2 separate regions of the Homo sapiens genome follow, and region 2 is linked to region 1. The links come from fine-mapping of genetic effects on gene expression. Tissue or cell type: whole blood. Region 1 holds a variant in brackets; the other region holds the start of a gene. All regions are shown on one strand. Distances are between the middles of the regions.

Region 1 (2,731 bases):
GGTGGGGGCAGGGCCAGCAGATCCCAGCTTTTGTCCCTGGCGCCCTCTGGACCCCAGGCTCCTATGCCATGGGGGTGGCAGGCACGGGCCCTCCCCGCAGAGCGTGGCTGACCACAGCCTGGGTCCCCCGGGCCAGGTCCAGGCTGGCAACGGTCACGTGCGGCCGAGGGCTTCACTCCGCTCCGAGGTTCCTTCCCCCCTCCATGGCTGTTTCAGGGGCACAGGGGTCTGCAGGACGCCCAGCACAGCCCGGCCTCCTCTGCTCTGCTGCCCCTGTTGGAGTGGGGCCCAACCCGGCAGGACTGCATTCCCAGAGACCCCATCCCTGAAACCAGGCAGCGGGCTTGGGGCTCAGGCCTGTCCCCAAGGCGGGGCAGGTGCAGCAGGAAGAGGCCTGTGGCCACCACAAGCATAAGAACAGCCCGAAACGCTGATGCCGGAGCCTCGGCCCACGCACCGTGTAGCCCTGGACGTGGCTCCGCGTGGGATGGCACCGCCCGAGGGAAGGCCAAGTGCAAGGGCGTCTGCAGCTGAAAAGAGCAAGTGTCCCAGGGCACCAGAGCCTTGCCCTGCCCCAGCCCCCCGTCGGCGGGGCACACATCCCCAGGCTGGCTCCTCTTCGTTGGGGAGGGCAGGGGGCTGGCCTGCCTGGTGCAGCAGGACAAAAGGCTGCCTGGAATCTACCCTTCCAAACCCTCTGTGGCTCCAGATGTCTGGGGCCTCAGGGAGTGGTTCTCTTGAGACCGGATGGGAGTGTCCCCCTGACCCTGTGTCTGACCTCTGACCCAGGAGGCAGGGTAACAGGAGCCTGGTCTGGTCAGAATGAGACCCGGAGACGGCTCCAGGCGCCAGTCCCTGCTCTACAAGGAGACTGGGGGTGGGCCCTGATAGCGTGGGGGTGGGGGTAGCTAGGCCAGACCCAGCAGCAGGCGGCTGGGCTGGAGCTGCCAGGGAGGGGCTTAAGGCCCGGACATGCCCACGAAACAGCACAGGGAGGCACCTGAGCCAGAGGCTGTGGTCTGGTCCCTGTACCAACTGGAGTGCCCCGTTCCAGCTCAGCTGTGACCTCCGGGGCGTCCACACCCCCCTGGGCCGGGCATAGCAGACACCAGATTGGCCAGCGTGCAGGCGGCTCTGCTGAGCGGGCCGACTGACTGGAGGACCTGGCCCTCTGGAGTCCTGCTGCTGTTGGGGACAGTCCGCCCCAGGCCATCTGCTGCCGGGGACTGTGAGCGAGGGCTCAGCACAGCCCAGCTGGGATTCCATCCACCGGGAAGAGGAGAATGGCCGTGACCAGGCCCAGCTGCTCCAGCCCAGCTCCAGCCCTCACTTTGAGGCGAACCCAGCCAACCGCGGCAGGTCAG[C/T]CCGGTCAGCGCAGGGAACAGCAGGCAAAACAAAGGCCAGAGGTCAGTTTGCCGGGTATGAAGCAGCACTGGCCCCTGGCACGGGGCACCGCCACTGCCAGACCCACCCCACCAGACACAGCAAAACGTGGGGACCACAGCTGAATTACATTTACTGTACAAAGAACGGTTCGGAGAGAACCAGGAATGGCGGAGTGTCTAACAGCAGCGCGGGTAGTGTTGATGCCGTGAATGCAGGACCATCCAGGTCCTCAAAGTCTGTGAGGTTTGTTCATAATCCCAAACAAGGGCCCTGCTGGCAGCAACAGGACAGGTGGGGCCAGGACAGGGAAGCTGGAGCAGGAGGCCAGTGTCTTTGGGGGCTGTGGCAGGGCCGCCTGCCTGGGGTTCCCTTACTCATCTGGTAGTTCATGCAGGCCACGGCCCTCATCTCCCAGGAACGGGCCATGGGGCGAGTCCACTGGTGCCCAGTAACACCCTCCGTGGGACCACCTTGGGAAGCATGTGCCGCGGAGTCCACCACGGGGGGTCCTGGGTCCCGGGAGGGCTCCTTCTGCGTGCTGGCCATGTCGTGCCGCACGGCCTGAGGACAGGAGGTAGAGGTGAGCACCAGTGCTGTGGGCAGGCCCAGGCGATGGTGACCGTGCAGAGGGGCTGCTGGGGCAGGCATGGGCAGAAGCACTGGGTGGAGGAGCGGCCAATGGCTTCAGGAGAGAGGTGGCCGGCCCTGCGTGCCTGGGGCTCAGCATGAGCGCCGGGCTGGTGGGCCTTTGAGGAGGGGCCTAGCCTCCCGAGGCCCCCAGGTGGACGTGGACGTGGACGAGGTGGTTCCAGGCACGTCCCTAAGAAGGTCAGGATGGTTCTGATGCCGTGCAACCTCACAGGAGAGCTGCAGCTGTGGGGACCCCAGGGCCAGCGACAGAAGCTGCCGAGAACAGGAGGCTGCACGCAGGTGCCCGGGGTCTGCACCGCTGCCCATCAAGTATTCCTAAGTCTACAGATAGCTCTGCACTCTCCAGGGTGGGCGAGATGATCTGAGTTTTGAGTGGTCAATGTCCCCGAAGGTGTCACATCACAGCAGGAAGGTTCTCATCCCCACGTGGGGAGGGATTTGGGGAGCAACAAAAATGTGGGCTGCCAGGTGCACCTCCTTTCTCCCCTCTCCTGAGTGCTGCTTGGGCTCTGACCACAGGACCACACCCTCCATCCCGTGGGAGCCAGGGCCCCGGTCACCCAAGCTTCCAGAGGGAGCACCGGCCCTGTCTGCTCCCCCGGCCTCTGGGCAGCCCCGCCACTCGCAGCGCATGAATTCACAGGATGCCTTGCCATCGCGGCCGCGAGTCCCCTCTCGAGGAGTCCCAAGTGCG
Region 2 (2,617 bases), 230 kb after region 1:
CAGAGGCAGAGGCTGCCTGAGATCGCCCCGAGGTTCAGGGAGGCACTGCCCAGCTCAGGGACCACCACCGCAAGGTCCATAGAGGCAGAGCCAGCTCAGGGACCACCTCAAGGTCCAGGGAGGGACAGCCCAGCTCAGCGACCACCCTGAGGTCCACAGAGGCACAGCCCAGCTCAGTGGCCTCAGGGAAGTCTGGAGATCCTGCAAAACTCCAGCCTCACTTTTGACTCCATCCCTTCTGGATGACGACAGACATGGTCTGAAGCCCCGACTTTCCACATGAGGAAGAACCCAGAGCCCACCCTGTGTCTGAGGTGAATGAGTGGCAGGGAACCAGGGAGAAACACACTTTCCCCACCAGGTGAGCCCTGGAAACACGGACAAAAAGGGGCCTGAAGATTGAAGAGGGAAGGTAGCAGGGTTCTGTCCGAGCCAGGAGACGGGGCCTGTGCTGCTGTGGAGTTTCAAGGCCTGTCGCTTCCAGACCCAGGGTCAGCGCTGAGCTCCGCCCCAGCCGTCCTCCTCTGGAGGGGACGCTGCCAGGGAAACAGAAGACGTCCTCACCTTCCTATAGTCCCAGGCTGCTCCAGAGCCAAGCTACCCTCCGGCATCGGGTCCCTGGTTTCCAGAGGAGCCCAGACCCTGTATGTCCCACAGAATCTGGACAGAGCCAAAGGGGCTCCGCCAGGCCAGGAGGAAAAGTTAACCCCAGCAGGCGGCTGAAGCCCACGGGAGGAAGACCCCCTGGTTGGTTTGTTCCCCCAAAACCCAGTTTGCAGGGCGCCTTGTGTAGCCTGGGGCTCTGCTGCGGCTGGTGCGGGCATTGCAGGCGGCGGCTCACTTTTCAGAGCCGATGGAGGGAGCCCTGGGACATGGATCGTCCTGTGAGGTGGCAGCTGGGGGGGCCGGGCAGCGGCGGGGCCGGGGACTTGGGGCCTGACGTCCCAGTCAGATTCTGGCCTAACTTGGCCTTCAGCGAACGCCCCAGCGGAGCGGCTCCCCCCACCCCCACCCCCCGACTCCCTCACCCCCCCACACCCCCACCCCCACCCCCCGACTCCCTCACCCCCCCACACCCCCACCCCCACCCCGGCCGGGAGACCCCCTCCCCGCCCAGTGCTGCAGCCGGCCTCTGCCTTCCTTGCGCTCCCGGGCCCTCGGTCGCCCCGGACCCGCCCAGGCTGCCAACTCGCCGGGCGCCTGCAGCCTGGGGCCTGGGGAGGCGAGAAGGAGCCGCAGAGCCGGACGGGCACTGGAGGGGCGTGCGGGTGCGAGCCGGCGCCTTCCCCAACTCGGACGGACCCCGCAGCCCGCGCCCCGAGGCCTCTGGGGGAGTCGGACCCCAGCCCGCACGTGCGCGCACAAAGGCCGAGCGGCGCGCGCCCCTTCCTCCCCTCCGCGTCCCCGCCGGGGCGCGCGGCCCCACTCACCCGAGCCGTGGCGCACTAGCAGGCTCGGGCCCGGGGCCCGCGGGCCGCAGCGCAGCCCCCGCAGCGCGGAGCGCCAGAAGAGGCCGCCCATGACGCCCGGCCCGCGGGCCGCTGTGAGCGCGAGGAGCGGGCGCGGAGGGCGGTGCCAGCCCGAGACCCGCCCCCGCCCGCCCGGGAGCCCCCCGCCGCCCCGGAGCCCCCCGCCGCCCCGGACCCCCGTGGCCCGGCGCTCACGGGGGAAATGTTCAACGCCAATTTCTGTTAAAAATCAGAAGAAAAAACAAAATAATAATGAATCCTTCTCGAATTGCATTCGTCTTTACACCGACGCAACCGTTAACTATCGTTTTAACGCTTTCCCACGGAGGAAGGCCCACTCGGGAGGCTGAGGCAGGAGGATCGCGTGAGCCCAGGAGATTGAGGCTGCAGTGAGCTGTGACTGCACCGCTGCACTCCAGCCTGAGCAATAGAGCAAGACTCTGTCTCAAAAATAAATTCACGGACCAAAAGGAGGTCTAGAAGCCCTGGTCTGAGCCCCCTCCAATGGAGGGTGAAATTCCCACGTGAGCCCCAGGGCGGGAGAAGGAGGCGCTCCGGAGACGCTGACTCTGCGGCCAGGACGAGTAGGCGGGACTACAGACCCGCGCCACCACAACCAGCTAATATTTTAATTTTTTGTAGAGATGGGGCCTCCCTATGTTGCCCATGCTGGTCTCAAACTCCTGGGATCAAGAAATCCTCCTGCCTTGGCTTCCCAAGGTGCTGGGATTACAGATGTGAGCCTGGTCTGTGAATTTGAATGGGGAAAAATCCGACCTTTATTCTCAAATGGCCTCTGATGTGACTGCATTCCTCTAATTCATTCAATTGCGGATATAAGGAAGAAGCCACATTCATAGTTGCAGGGCCTGTGACTTTGTCACCAACAGAATTCACAGGTACGGTAATATTTGGGTAGATAGCACAGCATGCTACTATTTGAAATGGTTAGGTCTCCCACTGCTAGAACTTACTTAATGAGTCTTGAAAAAGCCTGTTCTTTTTGCTGCTATTGTGAATGGAATTGTTTTCTTATTTGAATTGTCCATTGCAAGTGTATAACAGACAATTGAGGTTTGTTTGTTTTCAGACAGAGTGTCGCTCTTGTTGCCCAGGCTGGAGTGCAATAATGGCATATCTCTGCTCAC

What was found. PIP is the estimated chance that this variant, and not a neighbour inherited with it, causes the effect.
Region 2: NME4 starts here. The variant in region 1 is fine-mapped to the expression of NME4 in whole blood (INTERVAL, PIP 0.98).

Annotation. Positions count from the first base shown.
Region 1 is chr16:628,034-630,764 of GRCh38, reverse strand. RAB40C (RAB40C, member RAS oncogene family) reads right to left here. Exons shown (of 6, transcript NM_021168.5): 6 at 1,497-2,731. Among named protein-coding and RNA genes, the nearest start is that of WFIKKN1, 1.6 kb to the left of the region's middle. RefSeq lists enhancers at 1-421, 602-896, 422-1,155, 2,625-2,731. The variant C/T (reference allele first, on the strand shown) is at 1,365.
Region 2 is chr16:396,127-398,743 of GRCh38, reverse strand. It overlaps NME4 (NME/NM23 nucleoside diphosphate kinase 4), which reads right to left and starts at 1,545. Exons shown (of 5, transcript NM_005009.3): 1 at 1,431-1,545. The coding sequence starts at 1,521. RefSeq lists silencers at 915-984, 1,125-1,614 and an enhancer at 1,905-1,954.